Linked DNA regions of Homo sapiens: regions 1, 2 and 3 are each linked to region 4. The links come from fine-mapping of genetic effects on gene expression. A gene starts in region 4. Each other region holds a variant in brackets. All regions are shown on one strand. Distances are from middle to middle.

What was found. PIP is the estimated chance that this variant, and not a neighbour inherited with it, causes the effect.
Region 1: its variant is the best candidate, but not a certain one, in a credible set for the expression of POLE in whole blood (TOPMed, PIP 0.89).
Region 2: its variant is the best candidate, but not a certain one, in a credible set for the expression of POLE in cerebellar hemisphere (GTEx, PIP 0.51).
Region 3: its variant is the best candidate, but not a certain one, in a credible set for the expression of POLE in whole blood (INTERVAL, PIP 0.62).

The regions. Positions count from the first base shown.
Region 1 is chr12:132,657,866-132,662,989 of GRCh38, reverse strand. POLE (DNA polymerase epsilon, catalytic subunit) reads left to right here. Exons shown (of 49, transcript NM_006231.4): 24 at 1,306-1,463; 25 at 1,826-2,021; 26 at 3,481-3,695; 27 at 5,020-5,122. Among named protein-coding and RNA genes, the nearest start is that of POLE, 27 kb to the left of the region's middle. The variant G/A (reference allele first, on the strand shown) is at 2,830.
Region 2 is chr12:132,454,437-132,459,580 of GRCh38, reverse strand. No RefSeq gene overlaps it. Among named protein-coding and RNA genes, the nearest start is that of MUC8, 18 kb to the left of the region's middle. The variant G/A (reference allele first, on the strand shown) is at 2,275.
Region 3 is chr12:132,625,191-132,630,334 of GRCh38, reverse strand. POLE (DNA polymerase epsilon, catalytic subunit) reads left to right here. Exons shown (of 49, transcript NM_006231.4): 46 at 4,018-4,218; 47 at 4,565-4,690. Among named protein-coding and RNA genes, the nearest start is that of P2RX2, 9.0 kb to the right of the region's middle. The variant T/A (reference allele first, on the strand shown) is at 2,509.
Region 4 is chr12:132,685,236-132,690,379 of GRCh38, reverse strand. POLE (DNA polymerase epsilon, catalytic subunit) reads left to right here and starts at 3,038. Exons shown (of 49, transcript NM_006231.4): 1 at 3,038-3,126. The coding sequence starts at 3,065. PXMP2 (peroxisomal membrane protein 2) reads right to left here and starts at 2,793. Exons shown (of 5, transcript NM_018663.3): 1 at 2,588-2,793; 2 at 4-117. The coding sequence starts at 2,709. RefSeq lists a silencer at 2,278-3,587.

The sequences.
Region 1 (5,124 bases), 27 kb after region 4:
TCTGTTTCCTTCATTCCTTCTACTGTATCAATTGGGATCCTGTAGGGAAGCGTTGCTATCCTTCTCTTCCATTTGTTCTCGTTTATTTGTCTGCTTATTGACATCAGTGTGGATTTGCGGATCAGAGTGGACATCCCAGGGTTATTGTTCATAGGACCGGAGTGGCTTCCTGCTCCACGTGTTCCCCTTGGGCCACTGGGGCCTCCTAGTTTGTGGCGTGTTCTTGGGACACGCCCTCTTCTGGTCTTTGTTTCTGGAGCACTTTCCTACTTCTTGGTACTGTAAGGTCCACCAGCCTCATCTTGTATTTTCCCTGCTCCAACCTGGAGTCAGCCAGTTCTCCGAGAAGAATGATGTAAAAACCCGAGATGGGGTGCTTGCTGTGCTCACTGTTCCTGGGAGTGTCATAGCTTCCAGTCTCTCATAGTGGAGGCAGCCAGGAAGTATGTCTCTAGTAACGCACGCACACAGAACTGTTTATTTCTGTGTCTGTCTGTCTGCATGGATGCATTTAAACACATGAGTCTGCCCCTTTCTTATTAGTGACTTCTTTCTCCTTCAGTGATAAACCTGTTTCGAATTTCTCAATATATGTGTTTGTTCAATCCTAGAGTCCATGTAAAGTAGTTTTAGAATTGCTAACAGACTTGTGTCCCATGAGAAATAATTTCACCAGCCACTGTACAGCATTTGTAGATAGTTACTTTTGTTTTCAGCCTTACCCTGTCCAGTCAGCAGAGTTCACGGGCAGCTCCTTCCTCCCCACCCTGTTGGCATGTTCTGCTGTATGTCCACAGTGCTGTTGGGCTCATTTGGCCCAGTCTGCACCCCTCTTGGGATCCCAGCACCATGGCTGGATGGCTTGTAATTTGCACACAGTGACGTTCACTCTGTAGCGTACAGCCCTGTGGGTTTGGACAAGTGCATAGTGTGTGTGTCCAGCACCACGAAGCAACACAAAACAGCTGCAACCCCTTTGTCAGCAAATCCTCTCCCTACCCCGAAACCCTGGCAACCCACAATGTGTTTTTTGTACTATAATTTTGCTTTGTCGAAAATGTCATGTAAAGGGAAGCATACGGCCTGTAGCATTTTGGGTCTGGCTTCTTGGACCTAACAGATACACCTGAGTTTCACCACTTGGTTGCATGCATCAGAACTTCCTTCCTTCCTGCTGCCAAGTCGTGTTAGTTATGTGGAAAAGCCTCGGTTTGTCAATCCATCCACTCCTGGAGGGACACCAGGTGGTTTCCAGGTTTGGGCCATCATGAGTGAAGCTGCCCCCTCTTCACTCTTGTTTCTCAGGAAGGCTTCACCAATGACCAGTACCAGGAGCTGGCTGAGCCGTCCTCACTCACCTACGTCACCCGCTCAGAGAACAGCATCTTTTTTGAGGTTGATGGGCCCTACCTTGCCATGATTCTTCCAGCCTCCAAGGAAGAAGGCAAGAAATTGAAGAAGAGGTGGGACTCTCATAGCTTTTGTGCTTTAGAAAGGACATGGATTGAGATAGATTAAATTTAGCCCAGAAAGGAGGTTGGATCAGGAGCCAGGATAGAAACAGACCTGGGTTCTTGTGATCTTACTGATTCCGTTTGCACCAGCTCTGTCTGCCCGCCTGCTGTATTCTGGCTCTGTGGCTGCAGGCCCTTCAGCCATTTTCCTTTTAGAGAAGCAGTGGCCTAAGGGAGAGAGACGTTTGCTGCCTCGTGGATGACAGGTGGAGGGTTGGAAAGGGAAGAGGCGGGCAGAGAGGATGAGGCACAGCTGGTGGCTCCCCAGCGCTCCTTGCCACTGCTGTGCTTGCCTTTTTTTTTTTTTTCAGGTATGCTGTGTTCAATGAAGACGGTTCTCTGGCTGAGCTCAAGGGCTTTGAGGTCAAACGCCGCGGGGAACTGCAGCTGATTAAGATCTTCCAATCCTCGGTGTTTGAGGCCTTCCTCAAGGGCAGCACGCTGGAAGAGGTGTATGGCTCTGTAGCCAAGGTGGCTGACTACTGGCTGGACGTGCTGTACAGCAAGGTAAAGGCCTACCCTCCACCCTCACCTGCTCTGAGGGATGAAGGATGAAGCAAGAAGGGGACCCCGTGCTTCCTGGGCTCCTGGAGACCAAGGTGACCGAAGAACACAGGGCCAGTCCTAATGAAATCCCAAGACCTCCTGAGCACAATTACCCCCTTGGAGTTCCCCTCAACTTCTGCATCCAGGGACACAACTCTGAGGGAAACGTTTTTCTAAATAGCGTGATAAGCCTGGCATGGTGATGCGTGCCTGTGGTCCCAGCTACTTGGGAGGATCACTTGAGACCAGGAAGTAGAGGCCACAGTGAGCCGTGACTGCACCACTGCACTCCAGCCTGGGATATTTGTTTATTTCTATGTTACTTTGTATTTTTTATATTTTTCAGGCTACATAACATTTTGACAGTTTACATACCTTAATTTACGTAACTAGCCCACGATTATTTACTACCAGATAGGTTTCACATTTCCATTGTTATCAATGGTGTTGCATTGAACGAGATATCTCGGTGCATATGTTTCCCAGGCACAGGCGTCTTGGGTAGAAGGAATACTGGAACACTCTGCAGTGCTTTCCTGGCTTGCTTTGCTGTGTGGGCTTCTGTTTCTTGGCATATTGTCTTGTATAGAGTGAAACACACGAGCAAGGGAGCACCAGGGTATCACACAGAATATTCATGAGCCCAGCACTCCTTACAGGATGTGGGGGGCCTGTGGTCAGGAACATGTGTGCAAAGCACAGCTCCAGCTGGATGTGGGTGCCACACTGGAACTGCTCAGGCCTCCACTGCTCAGGCCACTCTCCAGCC[G/A]GCCGGAGTTTCTCTTTCCTCTCTTCTGGCTCTTCCTGCCCCTTCTTTCTCTTCCTTTCAAGGAGAAAAACTTCCTGTCTTAGGCCGAGCAACATCCTTTTCTGCAGCCTTGGTGCTCTTCAGTAAATTCTTCTTGATATTTTGTGCACAGTTTAATAAAATAAAAGCCAAGCCAGGCGTGGTGGCTCACGCCTGTAATCCCAGCACTTGGGAGGCCTCGGCGGGCAGACCACTTGAGGTCAGGAGTTGGAAACCAGCCTGGCCAACATGGCAAAACCCTTTCTCTACTAAAAATACAAAAATTAGCTGGATGTGATGGCATGTGCCTGTAATCTCAGCTACTTGGGAGGCTGAGGCACGAGAATCTCTTGAACCCAGGAGGGGAGGTTTTAGTGAGTTGAGATTGCACCACTGCACTCCAGCCTGGGTGACAGAATGAGACTCTGTCTCAAAAAAAATATAAAAGCTAAAGTTTTGTGTGTGTGTGTATGTTTTAAAGTATTGCCACACAGGCATATTAGAGAGCTCTTGAAATTGCAGCCTTCTGCGTCTCAGGCTAGAGAAGGGCATGGCCTAGAGGAGCACAGTCCAGGGTGAGCTCAGACTCTGCCCCTTGATTTCTGCAGTGTTTTACCCATTGTCTTTCTCTAGGCAGCCAACATGCCTGACTCTGAGCTATTCGAGCTCATCTCTGAGAACCGTTCCATGTCTCGGAAGCTGGAAGATTACGGGGAGCAGAAGTCTACGTCCATCAGCACAGCAAAGCGCCTGGCCGAGTTCCTGGGAGACCAGATGGTCAAGGATGCAGGGCTGAGTTGCCGCTACATCATCTCCCGCAAGCCCGAGGGCTCCCCTGTCACGGAGAGGTGAGGGCTCCCCCCATCACGGAGAGGTGAGGGCTCCTCCCATCACGGACAGGTGAGGGCTCCCTCCGTCACGGAGAGGTGAGGGCTCCCCTCATCACAGAGAGGTGAGGGCTGCCCTGTCACGGAGAGGTAAGGGGTTCCTTACAGATTTGGGCTGTGTTTAACACCAAGTTTGGGGATGGCATAAGTGTCCATCAACCAGAAATGGATAATTGCCATTTTGTAGGGAATGAGATACACTATACCAGAGTTCAAAGGGTTGAATTGCAGCTACAGGTTACAACACTGACAGTTTGAAACCACTTTGGAGAAAAAAGCAAAAATCAGGTTGAAGGAAGACCCTTATGCCTCCGTGTATGTAAAACTTAAAAACATGGAAACTGCTCTTTTTTTTTTTTTTTTTTTTTTTTTTTGGTGGTTATATACAAATAGGACCAGTACAAATGCCTGCATGGGGTTGATGAACACCAGAATAAGGGTTGTCTTTACTTCTGTGTGAGGAGGGAATAGGTTGGGGTCACACAGGGCTTCACTCTAATCGTCTCACAAAGGAAGTCAGAGTGGCCAAGTGTTGAAGCTTGATGGAGCCGAGTGGATCATAGTGTGCGTGTCTTCTTTAGGTCTCCTTATGTTTGCAGTATTCACCACAGATGTTTCCTCCAGTGAAAGGGAAGCACTGACGGTTGCCAGTTGCTTTGCTAGTGACATGAAAACAGGCTCGTTTTTTCTAGAAAGCAGCCTGAGTCTTCTGTGTGTTACTCAGCAAGGAACATGTAGACATGGTTATGAACGTGCACGTTTGCCTGTATGCATGCACGTGGTTACTCAGAAACGCAGACATGTTTACGCACACACGCATGTCTTTGCCTATACGCATGCGCGTGGTTACTCAGAAACGTAGACATGTTTACGCACGCATGCGTTTATGTATGTGCATGCACATGGTTATGCCGTGAGAAACATGTAGACATAGTTACGAACATGCACGTGTTTGCCTGTACGCATGCACGTGGTTACTCAATGAGAAACGCAGACATGTCTACGCACACGCATGTGTTTATGTATATGCATGCCCATGGTTACGCTGTGAGGAACATGTAGACATGTTTACGTGCACACACGCACGTGTTTACACATACGCACGTGTTACTCCCCGAGGAACCTGTAGGCATGTTTGTGCATACATATGCACGCAGATGTATACATTGATGTTTGTGAACAGCTGTTACACGTCCTTATTTCCATGTTCATTTGATAAGAGTTAGGATCAGATTTTGGGTGATTTTCACTGTTACTGAGCTGTGTGCCTGTCTTCCTTACCCAGGGCCATCCCACTTGCCATTTTCCAAGCAGAGCCCACGGTGAGGAAGCACTTTCTCCGGAAATGGCTCAAGAGCTCTTCCCTTCAAGACTTTGATATTCGAGCAGT
Region 2 (5,144 bases), 230 kb after region 4:
GGTTACACCCCTCCCAAGGTGGTCTCAGCCTGGGGCAGTGCTGACAGCGTCTCAGCCCAGGGCGTCCTGTGGGTCGGCCGGGCCGGTTGGGTCAGCTGCACTCTACACACCCTGCCTTCCTCACCTCCTACATCTGCCTCCTAAGATCACGCCCTGATAAACCTGCTCCCAGCCCAGCTCCTTCGCAGGGCCTGTCTCCAGGAGATCCAAGCTAAGACCCGAAGTACGTGGGCGGCTTTGGGAGTTTTGCTTTCTGTGGCTCCTCCGGCCGCTGCTTCCACGGTGACGGGCCTGAGATGGGCTGGCTGCTGCCTCTGGCCTTTCCTCATGTCCGCCGCTGTCCGCGTCTGCTTTTTAAACATAGATAGGATCATGCTTTGAGTTTATAAAGGGACAAAAATGTCCTGTGCCTTCCAAAGGTTCAGCAGACACAAAAGCCTTTGTGTGCTGAGCAGTGCGGAATAGAACTAGACCACACAAAACTGGAGAAATCGGGCTGGGCGTGGTGGTGGCACCTGTGGTCCTAGCTACTCCGAAGGCTGAGGCCAGAGGACGGCTTGAGCCCAGGAATTCCAGACTGCAGTGAGCTAAGATCGCACCTGCACTGCAGCCTGGGGGACAGAGCAAGACCCTGTCTCTGAAAGAAAAAAAAAAAAAAAAAAGGAATTTCAAGAGAAATTTGATAAAACCCATCACAGGGGAGGCATCCTGCCCTCTCCGGACAGGACAGGTGCGGTGGCCATTGGCCATTCTTTGCCTACCCAGCATCTGAACCCATATCCTGTGTAGGGAATTCTCCACCTCACGGGCAGGTGGGACGCAGAGGCAGTGTCTTGCTGTTAAAGCCAAAAGTGTGATGCTCAGTTTCCTGCCCCCCAACCCCTGAGGTCCCAGGGGCCTGTCCCAGGCTCAGCTTTCGGGCACCACCACTCCTGGACAATGAGCTGGGAGCGGACGGCATGGAGGGTGCACTGTGGTGGGGTGGACCCAGCAGAGTGCAGCCGGGGCCTGAGGCCAGCACAGGGCTGAGGTGCTGCTGGCAGCGTTCATATTTGCACTCAGCCACTAACCCCAACAGATCACTCCATCCCTCGGCCTCAGTCTCCTCACCTGTAAAGGGGGAGGATAGCAGCACCTCCCTCGTGGATGCTGCAAAGACCAGATGAGTTAAAGAAGTGTGGAGAAGAGTGCCAGACACACAGGGAATGCTACGTGTGTGTGGGAAATGCTCAATCAATACTGACAGCACACAGAATGTTTGAAGGAGCGGAAACCGGATTCGATATATACCTGTATTCATAAGGCTGAGATTTCAATACGTATCTGCATCTCTCTCTACTTAAGATATGAAGCTTCACAGCCATCTGTCCACCCACCTGCCCGCCCAGCCACATCACCCGCCCATCCACTCACCCGCCCACTCGCTCACCCATCACCCACCCACCCGTCCACCCACCTGTCCACCTACCCACCCGTCCATTCACCCACCCACCCACTCACCCACCCACCCGCTCACCCGCCCGTCCACCCACCTGGTCACCTACCCACCCGTCAACTCACCCACCCACCCGCTCACCTGCCCGTCCACCCACCCGTCCACCTACCCACCCGTCCACTCACCCACCCACCCGCTCACCCACCCACCCGCTCACCTGCCTGTCCACCCACCTGTCCACCTACCCACCCGTCCACTCACCCACCCATCCGCTCACCTGCCCATCCACCCACCTGTCTACCTACCCACCCGTCCACTCATCCACCCACCCACTCACCCGCCCGTCCACCCACCCACCCACTCACCTGCCCGTCCACCCACCTGTCCACTCACCCACCCACCCGCTCACCCGCCCATCCACCCACCTGTCCACCCAATCCACTCACCCGCCCATCCACCCACCTGTCCACCCAATCCACTCATCCACCCAGCCACTCACCCGCCCGTCCACTCACCCACCCACCCACTCACTCGCCCGTCCACCCACCCACCCATCCACTCCCGCACCCACCCACCCACCCAGCCATCCACTCACCTGCCCGCCCGCCCACCCAGCCACTCACCCGCCCATCCACCCACCTGCCCGCCCGTCCACCCACCCACCCACCCACTCCCCCGCCCGTTCGAGCCCAAGGACTGGGGGGCGTGGAAGCCAACGGAGCCCTCTCTCCCGACGCCTCACCATGTGAGAGCTTCCTGTGGCTGCCGGAGCAAGTGACCGCAACGCCGCACAGATTTATCATCTCGCAGCTCTGGAGGTTGGAAGCCCAGTGTGGGGC[G/A]AGCAAGGCCGGTTCTGCTGGGGCCTGGGGAGGACCCGCCGCCTGCCTCGTCAGCCCCAGGAGTGGCCCGTCCGGGCCAGGCCCTCCCTCCGTCTTCAGAGCCTCGGCGGCCGCAGAGACTCCCTGCAGCGTCTCCCGGCCTCGTCTCCTGCCTCCTCCTCCCCATTCGAGGACCCTTGTGATTGCACTGGGCCCACGGATAATCCGGGTAATTGTGTTTTAAGGTCAGCTGATTAGCAGTTTTTCCATCTGCAGCCTTAACTCCCCCGCCCGGTAACCCGACACAGGCGCAGGCTCTGGGGATTAGCACGGCGGCCACGTCTGACCTCCATCCAGCACGAGCTCCCTTCTCCACGCAGAGGCACCTTCTTGGGTGCTGGGGCCGGGATGAGACTGGTCTGGGGCACGACTCAGCCTCATCAAGTCCTGGGGACAGCACCCAGCACCAGGAGCTCCACACCCCCCGGCCAGGTGGTCCTGCTCAGCCTGGGGTGAGGGCAGGAGCTGTCTCCTCACTCTGCTCCACAGGACCCTCAGCCACACCAGGCCTCTCGCCCCCATGGACCCCTCGCCCTGTGGGGCCCTGACCTCTTCTCTGGCAGATGAGTGCGCTGGGGTCCAGCGTCTGAACCTCACTTCTGCTGTGAGACTGTGAACACCTGTGCTTGCCGAGGGTCTGTGAGCCTCAGGTGCAGGGAGTTGCTGTCTAGGCCCCTCTGCTGAGCTCCCCGGGTCACCTCTGTGTCGGTCATCAGCTGCTCAGCTGGGCGGAGGTCTCACCTGGCCTCACTCACACATTGGGAGCTGTTGCCGGCTGCCGCACGGTTCCTCTCACGCAGCCCTGAGTCCCCAGGGCTTCCACGGCACGAAGGGAGAGTGGACGGCCTCCCGAGGTCATGCCCCATCCTAAGGTCAAAGCCAGATGCCAGGGCAGCTCTGACTGGAGGGGAAGCAGACCCCGCACTGAGCTCCATGTTCATACACACACACACAGATTCGTGCACACCCACTCACACCCGTGTTCACACACACGCGCCCACAGGCACACAAGCGCACACACATCCACACACACACGTCCAAATGCACTGCGGCAATGCACATGCATACATATCCACACGCATCACACACGTCCACACACACACGTCCAAATGCACTGATGCAATGCACATGCATACATATCCACACGCATCACACACGTCCACACACACATGCAGACACCACACGCACACGTCCACATGCACACATCCATGTTCACACACACGTTCACATGCACACACGCGCACACACATCCACACACACACGTCCAAATGCACTGCTGCAATGCACATGCATACATATCCACATGCATCACACACGTCCACACACACATACGCACACACATGCACACACACATCCACATGCACATGCATCCACTTGCATACACATGCCCACATGCACACATCCATGTTCACATGCACACACACGTTCACATGCACAGACGCACACACACACAAGTCCACACACACATGCAGACACACCACACGCACACGTCCACATGCACACATCCATGTTCACACACACACGTTCACATGCACACACACGCACACACACACAAGTTCACACACACGTCCAAATGCACTGACGCAATGCACATGCATACATATCCACACGCATCACACACGTCCACACACATACGCACACACATGCACACACACATCCACATGCACACGCATCCACTTGCATACACACGCCCACATGCACACATCCATGTTCACACACACGTTCACATGCACACACATGCACACACACACAAGTTCACACACACATGCAGACACAACACACGCACACACATCCACATGCACACACATATGTCCACACGCACACACATCCACATACATGTTCACACACGTTCACATGCACACATACACAGGGTCTGCTGTTGGCAGGCATAACTCATGGATCCTAGACCTTTCTGTGGTCCCCAGTCGGTGTCTGTCCAGGTGCTGCTGTGAGGTTGGAGCTACTGCCCCCGGCTGTTCCTGGTGGCCCTGACCCCACTCTCCTCAGCCTGGGCCTCTGACCAGGGTCAACAGCTTCCTCTCCCCTGGCAGTGTCTGCTCCTTGGAAACCAGGGGTCCCCCTGACCTGCTGCCCCTCCCAGAGGTCGTGCCCAGACCTGCATCGTCCCCACTGGACTCTGCTCTCAGAGGGTGACAGATTCCCCCATGTTTACCTGGGACCCCCACGGCCCACTTCGTCTTGGGGAACACGGGTGGCTGGTCACCCTGGCTCCCACCCCATCTGCAACCGGCTACCCCTGGCCTTCCAGTTGCTGGCTTAGCATGGAGGAGAGCCCTGGGGTGGCCGCAGCCTCCCCCAGCTGCCCCCTGCACGGCCGGGCTGCTCAGAGCTGCCTCTGGCCTCAGACTCCCCGGGAGATGCAGAACCCACTTCCTCACCCTGCCCACCCTCCAAGCTGCCTGCCTGGAAGCCAAAGGCAGCCCTCACTCTTACCACAGAGAAGAGCAAACTCAGGGAGGGACGCTGGGCAGAGGGAGGGGCTCCAAGGACACAGGGGTTGGGGGAGGGGTCTAAATAGCATCTGGTCAGAGGAGGCCGGTGCTGGTACCCTGTGCAGCCCAGTGCAGCACCTCCCCCAGAATAAAAGCCAAATCCTCCTGCGACCACACCCCAACACTCATCACATCTACCCCAACCCTAATCCCAGCACTAACCCTAAACCTGACACCACTGCCCCCTCACCCCCAACACCCATCACATCTACTCCAACCCTAAACCTAACACCCCCGTTCCCTCAACCCCCACACCCATAACATCTACCCCAACCCTAATCCTAACATCCCCGCCCCCTCACCCCCAACACCCATCAC
Region 3 (5,144 bases), 60 kb after region 4:
GATATCTGATTGCAGGCATATCCTGTCTTATTGTGCTTCGAAGCGGTTACCTGTATTTTTATAAATGGAAGGTTTGTGGGAATCTTGTCTTGAGCAAGTCTCATCTTTCCAACAGCATGTGCTCACTGTGTCTGTGTCACATGTTGGTAACTCTCAGGATATTTCAGACTTTTCCACTATTATTATATCAGCCGTGATAACCTTTGATGCTTCTATGGCAATTGTTTTGGGGCGCCATGAACCGTGCGCATAGAAGACAATGAGCTTCATCAATGTTGTGTGTGTCCTGATTGCTCCACTCACGGGCCATTCTGCCATCTCGCCCTTTCTCCTTGGGCCTCCCCAGTCCCGGTGACACAACACTATAGAAATTAGGTAAGTTAATAGCCCTGCAATGGCCTCTACGTGTTCAAGTGAAAGGAAGAGTCACACGTCTCTCACTTTACATAAAGAGCTAGAAATGGCTAAACTTAGGAAGGCATGTTGAAAGTCGAGACAGGCTGAAAGCTAGGCCTCTCACACCAGTTAGCCAAGTCAACTGCAAAGGAAAGGTTCTTGAAGGAAATTACAAGTGCTCCTCCAGTGAACACATGAAAGATAAAGAAGTGAAGCATCCTGTTGCTGATATGGAGAAAGTTGAGTCTGGATAGATCAAACCAGATATAACATCCCCTCAAGCCAGAGCCTAATCCAGAGCAAGGCTCTCACTCTGTTCAGTTCCATGAAGGCTGAGAGCTGAGGAGGCTGTAGAAGGAAAGCTTGAAGCTGGCGGAGGTTGGTTCATGGGGTTTAGGGAGAGAAGCCGTCCCAGTAACATAAAAGGGCAAATGAGGCAACAGGTGCGGGTGGAGAGGCTGCAGCGAGTTCTCCAGAAGATCTGTCTGGGATCATTGGCGAAGGTGGCTACACTGACAACATATTTTCCGTGTAGACAAAACAGCCTTCTTTTGGAAGAAGATGCCATCTAGGACTTTCATAGCTAGAGAGGAGGCCTCAGAGCCTGGCTTCAGAGGAAAGGCTGACTCTTGTTAGCGGCAGATGCAGCTGGTGACTTTAAGTCGAAGCCACTGCTCATTCAGTCTTTTAAGGCCACTACCTGCAGCTCAGAAAAAGATTCCTTCCAAAATAGTACTGCTCATTGACAGTGGACCTGGTCACCCAAGAGCTCTGATGGAGACGTACAAGGAGATGAATGTTGCTTTCATGCCTGCGGACACAGCATCCCTTCTGCAGCCCATGGATCAAGGAGCAATTTCGACTTTCAACGTTTATTATTTAAAAATATATTTCATGAGGCTATAGCTGCCATAGATAGTGATTCCCCTGATGGAACTGGGCACAGTAAATTGAAAACCTTCTAGAAAGGATTCACCATTCTGGATGCCATTAAGAACATTTGTGACTCATGGGAGAAGGGGTCAAAATATCAACATTAACAGGAGTGTGGAAGAAGTTGATTCTGACCCTCATGGATGACTTTGAGGGATTCAAGACTATTGTGGGAGGCGTGACTGCAGATGTGGTGGAAACAGCAAGGGAACTAGAATTAGAAGTGGAGCCTGAAGATGTGACCAAGTTGCTGCAATCTCAGGACAAAATTTAACAGATAAAGAGTGGCTTTTCATGGATGAGCAGTAAAGTAGTTTTTTGTTTTGTTTTGTTTTGTTTTGTTTTGTTTTGTTTTGTTTTGAGATGGAGCCTCCTTGCTCTGTCGCCCAGGCTGGAATACAGTGGTGCGGTCTTGGCTCGCTGCAACCTCCGCCTCCTGGGTTCAAGTGATTTTCCTACATCAGCCTCCCAAGTAGCTGGGATTACAGGTGCCCGCCACAATGCTCAGCTAATTTTTGTATTTTTAATAGAGACAGAGTTTCACCATATTGGTCAGGCTGGTCTCAAACTCCTGACCTCAGGTGATCCACCCGCCTTGGCCTCCCAAAGTGCTGGGATTACAGGCACAAGCCACCACGCCCAGCCCAAAAAAGTAGTTTTTTTTTTAAGATGGAGTCTCGCACTCTCGCCCAGGCTGGAGTGCAGTGGCGCGATCTTGGCTCACTGCAAGCTCCCTCCCAGGTTCACGCCATTCTCCTGCCTCAGCCTCCCGAGTAGCTGGGACTACAGGCAAGCGCCACCACACCTGGCTAATTTTCGTATTTTTAGTAGAGACAGGGTTTCACCATGTTAGCCAGGATGGTCTCGATCTCCTGACCTTGTGATCTGCCCACCTCGGCCTCCCAAAGTGCTGGGATTACAGGCGTGAGCCACCGCACCTGGCCAAAAAGTAGTTTCTTGAGATGAAAGTGAACATTGTGGAAATGACAAAGGATTGAGAATATTCCATAAACTTAGTTGCCAAAGCAGCAGCAGAATTTGAGAGGACCGACTCCAATTTTGAAAGAAGTTCTACTGTGGGTGAAATGTTATCAAACAGCATCACATGCTACAGAGTCTTTCATGGAAGGAAGAGTCAGTTGATGCAGCAAACTTCATTGTTGTCTTGTTTTAAGAAAT[T/A]GCCACAGCCACCCCAACTCTCAGCAATACCACCCTGATCAGTCAGCAGCCGTTTACATTGAGGCAAGACCCTCCACCAGCAAAACGATTGCGACTCACTGAAGGCTCAGATGATCGTTAATATTTCTGAGCAATAAAACATTTTAAAATTAAGGTACATACATTGTTTTTTAGACATAATGCTGTTATGCACTTAATAGACTACAGTATAGGGTAAACCTAAGTTTTGTCTGGGTAGAGTGACTCACACCTGTAATCCCAGCACTTTGGGAGGTCAGGGTGGGTTGACTGTTTGAGCCCAGCAGTTCAAGACCAGCCTGGGCAACATGGCAAAACCCATCTTTACAACGATTACAAACATTACCTGGGCATGGTGGCGCATGCCTGTCGTCCCAGCTACTGGGAAGGCTGAGGTAGAAGGATCAATTGAGCCCCAAGAGGTCAATGCTGCAGTGAGCCATGATTGTGCCACTGCAGTCCATTCTGGGTGACAGAGTGAAATCCTGTCCCAAAATAAAAAAAATCACATAGCTTTTTTTTTTTTTGAGATGGAGTCTCACTCTGTCACTCAGGCTGGAGTGCAGTGGTGCAATCTTGGCTAACTGCAACCTCCACCTCCTGGGTTCAAGCGATTCCCTGCTTCAGCCTCCCAGGTAGCTGGGATCACAGGTGCACCCGCCACCATGCCCAGCCAATTTTTGTATTTTTAATAGAAATGGGGTTTCACTGTGTTGGCCAGGATGGTCTTGAACTCCTGACCTCAGGCCATCCACCTGCCTTGGCCTACCAAAGTGCTGGGATTACAGGCGTGAGCCACCACAAATCACGTAACTTTTATATGTACTGAGAAAACAAGCGTGAGCCAAAAATCATGTAACTTTTATATGCACTGAGAAACCAAATAATTTGTGTGATTTGCTTTATTGTGATGTTAGTCCATTGAGGTGGTTTGAAACCGAACTTGCCATATCTCCAAGATACGCTTGTATTCAAGAACCATTTGTTGAAAAGACTATTCTTTTTCTATCGAATCATCTTTGTACCTTTTTCCATAACTTAGTAACCTTATCTATGTGAGTCTCTTTCTGGATTATGTATTCTTTTTTTCGATCTTGCATTCAATTTGCTAATATCTCGTTGCGCATTTTTGTGTCTGTGCTCAGGCTGTTATTGGTCTGTAGTTTCTTAGTACGGTCTTTGGTTCTAGTATCAGGGGATGCTGGCCTCATAGAATGGGTTGAGTGCTCTCTCTCTTCAGTGTTTTGAAAGATACTGTGTAGAATCAGCAGCATTTCTTCCTTAAATGTTTAGTAAATTCCCCAGGGAAGCCTGTCCTCACCGATGGAAAACTGCTAATGTAGAGAAGTCAGCTGAGGCGTCTAAAGGGACTAAGGAAGGGAGGAAAGGACACCAGGAAACTGTAGCCTAAGGTCCAGAGGGTTCTGGTCCAGACAGAGCAGCAGGGAGGCCCCGGGAGCTCCTTCCCGATGTGGGCTGTGGTCTCTGCAGGTGCTGTCCCTGGACACCAACATCACAAACCAGGTGAATAAGCTGAACCGAGACCTGCTTCGCCTGGTGGATGTCGGCGAGTTCTCCGAGGAGGCCCAGTTCCGAGACCCCTGCCGCTCCTACGTGCTTCCTGAGGTCATCTGCCGCAGCTGTAACTTCTGCCGCGACCTGGACCTGTGTAAAGACTCTTCCTTCTCAGAGGTGCGGCTGAGCTCCAGCGGGCCCTTCACTGTGGAGCAGAACATCCGAGGGCACTGCGGTGTCTTGAGGGCTTCTGCAGCTCCAGCTCTGTGGGTCACACCTGCTGCCCCTCTGACTCACATGGATTGGCAACAGGCCCCTTCCCAGGCCTCCCCACACCATGTTCGGAATGTTGTCCTAGGAAGGGCTCAAGTGCAGGTGGGAGGCCAGAGTGCGTGCAGCTGCACTCAGGAGACTCGCCCGTCACCAGGCGCTTCTCACAGCCCCTTCCTCTCCTGAGATCCTGCCCATGGCACTGTGGTCTGGAGGCTGGGCTGGTGACCTCTCGCACTCTTGCTCTGCCTAGGATGGGGCGGTCCTGCCTCAGTGGCTCTGCTCCAACTGTCAGGCGCCCTACGACTCCTCTGCCATCGAGATGACGCTGGTGGAAGTTCTACAGAAGAAGCTGATGGCCTTCACCCTGCAGGACCTGGTGAGTCGTGCATGCCGCCTGCCCGTGTGCCCTGGAGTCCACAGGGGGGTTTCTGTGCACTCCCGGGAGCCGGGGTGTGTGCAGGTCCTGAGGCACGCCCTGGTGTCTTCCAAGGGGCCTGCCCTGCAGACCAGTCCATGCCCTGAGCCTGATGGACTGTTCTGTCCACACTGGTTGAGCACCTGCCTTGGGTCAAGAGCTGGCCTTGTGGGTGCTTCGTTCTAGCGGAAGGAGGCAGACACTCCCAAGTGTGAAGAGAAGGAAAGGAGGAAGAGGGAGTTGCACAGCTCGGCCACAGGAAGGTCTTGCCGAGGGGCATCTGAGCAGAGGCTGGGGGACGCGCCAAGCTGCCGTGTGGTGGTGCACGGCGTTCAGGCCTGCAGGATGGAGGGAGTGAGCAGGGCCTGGAGGAGGCCTCAGGACTGGGCATCTGGGGTGGAACATCCACAGCGAG
Region 4 (5,144 bases):
CACCCGTAAACGGCATATCTCAGAGGCCCACCGACATCCAGACTTCTAGAGTTTTCTTTTTTCCGCTTCTTCTCAATCATCTGGGCCAGGAAGTTCCCAAGTGCTGACAAAATGCCACTGTGGAGAGGGAGGTCATCAGAAAACAGCAGTGACCAGCAGGAGGGTGTCCCTTTCCCATAGGTGAATTAGCAGGGCCGTTCTGAGGCCATGCAGCAGATGGGCGGGGGGTAGGAATTCTTGTTAAAGCGGCTGCAATGTATAGTTCTTGTATCAAAAGGTGGAGACGGTGGACTTAAACACACAGGTAAGGACAAGTGGCTTTCCAGTATCTATGTCAACATCCTGGCTGTGATGTTATACTATAATTTGGCAGTTTGGGAGTTGGGAAGCTGTGTGGTTATGAACGGGCAACAGGACAGCCCTATCATGACGCTGTTCTGCATTTTGACTGTGGTAGTGAACACAAGAATGTACAGATGTGATAAAACTGTACAGAACAGATACAGCTACAAGAAAAATGGAGAAATCCGAATAGGATCTGTGGACTGTGTCCACGCAATGCCCTGGTCGATACTGCACTACGTTTCACAGAATGTAACCAATGGGGGACACTGGGAAGGTGTGCAAGGAATCTCTCCATGTTAGTCTTGTAACTGTTTGTGAATCTACAATTATCACAATAAAAATTTCCATAAAAAGGTGGAACAGGCCCAGTGGCTCCCTCCAGGCCTTGGTTTGTATTTGCCTTCTGAGAAGCTCTCTGGACTATAAAATCCAAAATTCCTAGCACGGACCTAGACACCTTCTCGATCAGATCCCTGGCGATTCCCTTCACATCTCCTGCCTCTTGCTCAGGGTTCACTTTCTCCACACACAGATCTTCCCTCCCTCGGGACTGAGTCCAAGCTGCACCTCTCTCCGCCTTTCTTTAACGCCGGCCTTCCCTTCAAAACCTAACAGAGACCTTTGCCCTGCTGTTCCCTGTGCCAGGAGAGCCTCTGCTCCACTTCTTTACACAGCCTGTTCAATGTCACCTTCTCAAAACACCTTCCCTGGCCGTGTCTCCACCCGCGCCGTGCGGACCCGCGCCCCGCAGACTCGCTCCCTTGGCCCTGTCTCCACACGCTCCATGTGGACCCGCTCCCCTGGCCCTGTCTTCACCCGCACCACGCAGACCCGCTCCCTTGGCCCTGTCTTTACCCGTGCCCCGCAGACCCGCTCCCCTCGCCCTGTCTTCACCCGCGCCCCGCAGACCCGCTCCCTTGGCCCTGTCTTCACCCGCGCCCCGCAGACCCGCTCCCTTGGCCCTGTCTCCACCCGCGCCATGAGGACCCGCTCCCCTGGCCCTGTCTTTACCCGCGCCCCCAAGACCCGCTCCCCTGGCGCTGTCTTCACCCGCGCCCCGCAGACTCGCTCCCTTGGCCCTGTCTCCACACGCTCCATGAGGACCCGCTCCCCTGGCCCTGTCTTCACCCGTGCCCCGCAGACCCGCTCCCCTGGCCCTGTCTTCACCCGCGCCCCCAAGACCCGCTCCCCTCGCCCTGTCTTCACCCGTGCCCCGCAGACCCGCTCCCCTGGCCCTGTCTTCACCCGCGCCCCCAAGACCCGCTCCCCTCGCCCTGTCTTCACCCGTGCCCCGCAGACCCGCTCCCCTGGCCCTGTCTTCACCCGCGCCCCCAAGACCCGCTCCCCTCGCCCTGTCTTCACCCGTGCCCCGCAGACCCGCTCCCCTGGCCCTGTCTTCACCCGCACCACGCAGACCCGCTCCCTTGGCCCTGTCTTTACCCGTGCCCCGCAGACCCGCTCCCCTCGCCCTGTCTTCACCCGCGCCCCGCAGACCCGCTCCCTTGGCCCTGTCTTCACCCGCGCCCCGCAGACCCGCTCCCTTGGCCCTGTCTCCACCCGCGCCATGAGGACCCGCTCCCCTGGCCCTGTCTTTACCCGCGCCCCCAAGACCCGCTCCCCTGGCGCTGTCTTCACCCGCGCCCCGCAGACTCGCTCCCTTGGCCCTGTCTCCACACGCTCCATGAGGACCCGCTCCCCTGGCCCTGTCTTCACCCGTGCCCCGCAGACCCGCTCCCCTGGCCCTGTCTTCACCCGCGCCCCGCAGACCCGCTCCCCTCGCCCTGTCTTCACCCGCGCCCCCAAGACCCGCTCCCCTCGCCCTGTCTTCACCCGCGCCCCGCAGACCCGCTCCCCTCGCCCTGTCTTCACCCGCGCCCCGCAGACCCGCTCCCCTCGCCCTGTCTTCACCCGCGCCTGCGGACCCGCTCCCCTTGCCGTGGCTTCCCCGGGCGCGCGGGGCCCCTGTTGGGTCCTTGGGTGGAACCTCAGCGCCGACCCCCGGGTCTGGGCGGGCCCTCCACGCGCTGGGAGGGCGGGATCCGCAAGGCGCCTCACAATCGCTGACTGCGGACGCGGGTGTCGCCGCGGGAAGTTCAGCGCCGGGTCGGAGGGCGCCCGCTCCGGGGGTTCTGACCCGGGCGCGCCCCCAGCCTGGTCCCGGCCCGGCGCTCCCGTCCAGGCCCCGCGCCGCTGCGGCCGACCTGGGGCCGGGGCGGCGTCCGATTCCCGCGCCCCCGCTCACCTGGTGGCCGCCTTGGTGAGCACCGGGTAGAGCCGCAGGAAGAGCAGGTACTGGGCGAGCGCCCGCCGCGGCAGCGCCCCGAGCCCGGCTTCGGCCCGCAGCCTGGACGCGGCCGGCGCCATCGCCTCCCCAGCGCCGTGCCGCCGGGGGCACCGACCCCACCTCAGGCTGGCCGGGCGCGGAGCCCGAGGCGCCGAGAGCGGAGTGGGGACCGCCTGACATTTCCGGCCCCACCGCGGCCCGCAGCGCCGCCCGGTCCCAACCCCACGGTGCGCCGCGCGCGCCTACCACACACTTTTCCCCGGTCCCTGCCGGCCACCTCCCCCGCCGGGCGCCGGCGCCAATTGGAGCGCCTCGGGGGGCGGGGGAGGGGCGGAGCGCGCCTCTTGATGGACGGCGGCATTTCCGGCTCTCGCGAGTCTGGGTGGGAGCGCGCCAAATTTCTCCCCTGAAGCAGAGGTGGTAGCCAACGGCTCCATGTCTCTGAGGAGCGGCGGGCGGCGGCGCGCGGACCCAGGCGCGGATGGCGAGGCCAGCAGGTGAGGGGCGCCCTCCTGAGGCTCTCGGGCCGGCCCTCCGGAGGGTGCCATGGGGCCGTCCTCGGCTGGCGCCGCCGAGGCGGGAGGGAGGCCCGGTTCCCGCAGCCGCCCGCACTCGCCGCGCCTGACTGGGGTAGGGCGGCGCGCCCCGACCGCCGACGGAGGGGCTCGGGGCGGGCGGAGGCGCTACGGGCGCGGCTTCTTTGCGGGGAAACGAGGCGGGCCGCGCGGCCTTTCCCTGCTCGGCTCTTTCTGAGGTTTTTCGGGCCTCGCCTTCCGCGCAGCTGCGTTTGGGACCTGCCGCGCGGCGGGGGCGATGAGAGCGGCGGGACCCGGGCCAGGCCCTGCGGGGTGGACGCGCGGCTGGGGAGGGTGCGGGGAGGGGCGGGGCCGGGGACCCTGCCTGGGGGCCTAGCGCTGGGGGAGGCCGAGGCGGGCGGATCGCTGGAGCCCAGGATCCTGTTCTAGATCAGCCTGGGCTACAGAGAGAGACCTCGTCTCCTCTGTTTTATTTTTTTGGGCAGGGAGTCCCGCTCTGTCGCCCAGGCTGGAGTGCAGTGGCGCGATCTCGGCTCACTGCAACCTCTGCTTCCCGGGTTCAAGCGATCCCGCTGCCTCAGCCTCCCGAGTAGCTGGAATTACAGGCGCCCGCCACCAGGCCCGGCTAGTTTTTGTATTTTTAGTAGAGACCGGGTTTCACCATGTTGGCCAGGCTGGTCTCGAACTCCTGACCTCAGGTGATCCGCCCGCCTCGGCCTTCCAAAGTGCTGGGATTACAGACGTGAGACTCCGCGCCCGGCCCTTCTCTTGTAAAAACAAGAAAAATTAGACAGGCTGGTGGTGCGCGCCCGAGGTCCCAGCTATTAATACTCCCGAATCCGAGCCGGAGGTTCACCTGAGCCCGGCAGGTCAAGGCTGCTGTGAGCCGGGATCGCGCCACCGCACTCCAGCCTGGGCGACGGAGCCAGACCCAGTCTCAAAAAAAATAGAGCAAGGATAAGACGCGGCTGCTTGGTGGCCAGAGCAAACGGTAAACATGACCGGAGGACTGGCCTGCCATAAGCAGAAAACGGATGAGGCCCGGCGCGGTGGCTCACACCTGTAATCCCAGCACTTTGGGAGGCCGAGGCAGGAGGATCACCTGAGGTCAGGAGTTCGAGACCAGCCTGACCAACATGGAGAAATCCCGTCTCCACTAAAAAAATACAAAATTAGCGGGGCGTGGTGGCGCATGCCTGTAATCCCAGCTACGCAGGAGGCTGAGGCAGGAGAATCACTTGAACGCGGCAGGCGGAGGTTGCGGTGAACCGAGATCGCGCCATTGCACTCCAGGCTGGGCAACAAAGAATGAAACTCTGTCTCAAAAAAAAAAAAATAGAAAAAACGTGTGAGAACGTGAAGCTTTTTACAGACACTTAGCTGAACAAAATTCTTCCCAGAGGAGAAACCAAGTGGTAAGGATCCCTAACTGCTGTTGTGCTCATCGCTGTCTGTCCATATCAGGCAAGCCCTAGAGAGGCAGGTACCCTTAGGGTCTACATGGTGTGTTGGAACTTGGAGCTTAGAGACGGTTACTGACTGCCCTGCTTCAGGACACAGGACTGCACTCACGTGCTCCACTCCACTGCCCTGCCCCAAGCTCAGTGATGGCCTCCAGGCAGGGGGAAGGCTGCTGCTGGGATAAGTACAAGTGATGGCTTTTACCTTACATGCTTTATGTGGGTTACCTCATCTCATCCTTAAAACAGTCCTGGGAGGTGAGTGTGCCCCAGGAGGCAGTGGGTGCTGTTTGCCTGCGTTTCTTCTTGTGTGAAATGGGGACACCAGTGGCCTCCCTCGTAGGGGTTGTCATGAAAACTGAATGAGAGCATATGTGGAGTACTGGGACGGTGTGATACAGTAACCAGTCAATGGTAGCTCTCTGTGAATGAGAGCCTGTGTGGAGTACTGGGACAGTGTGATACAGTAACCAGTCAATGGTAGCTCTCTGTGAATGAGAGCCTGTGTGTAGTACTGGG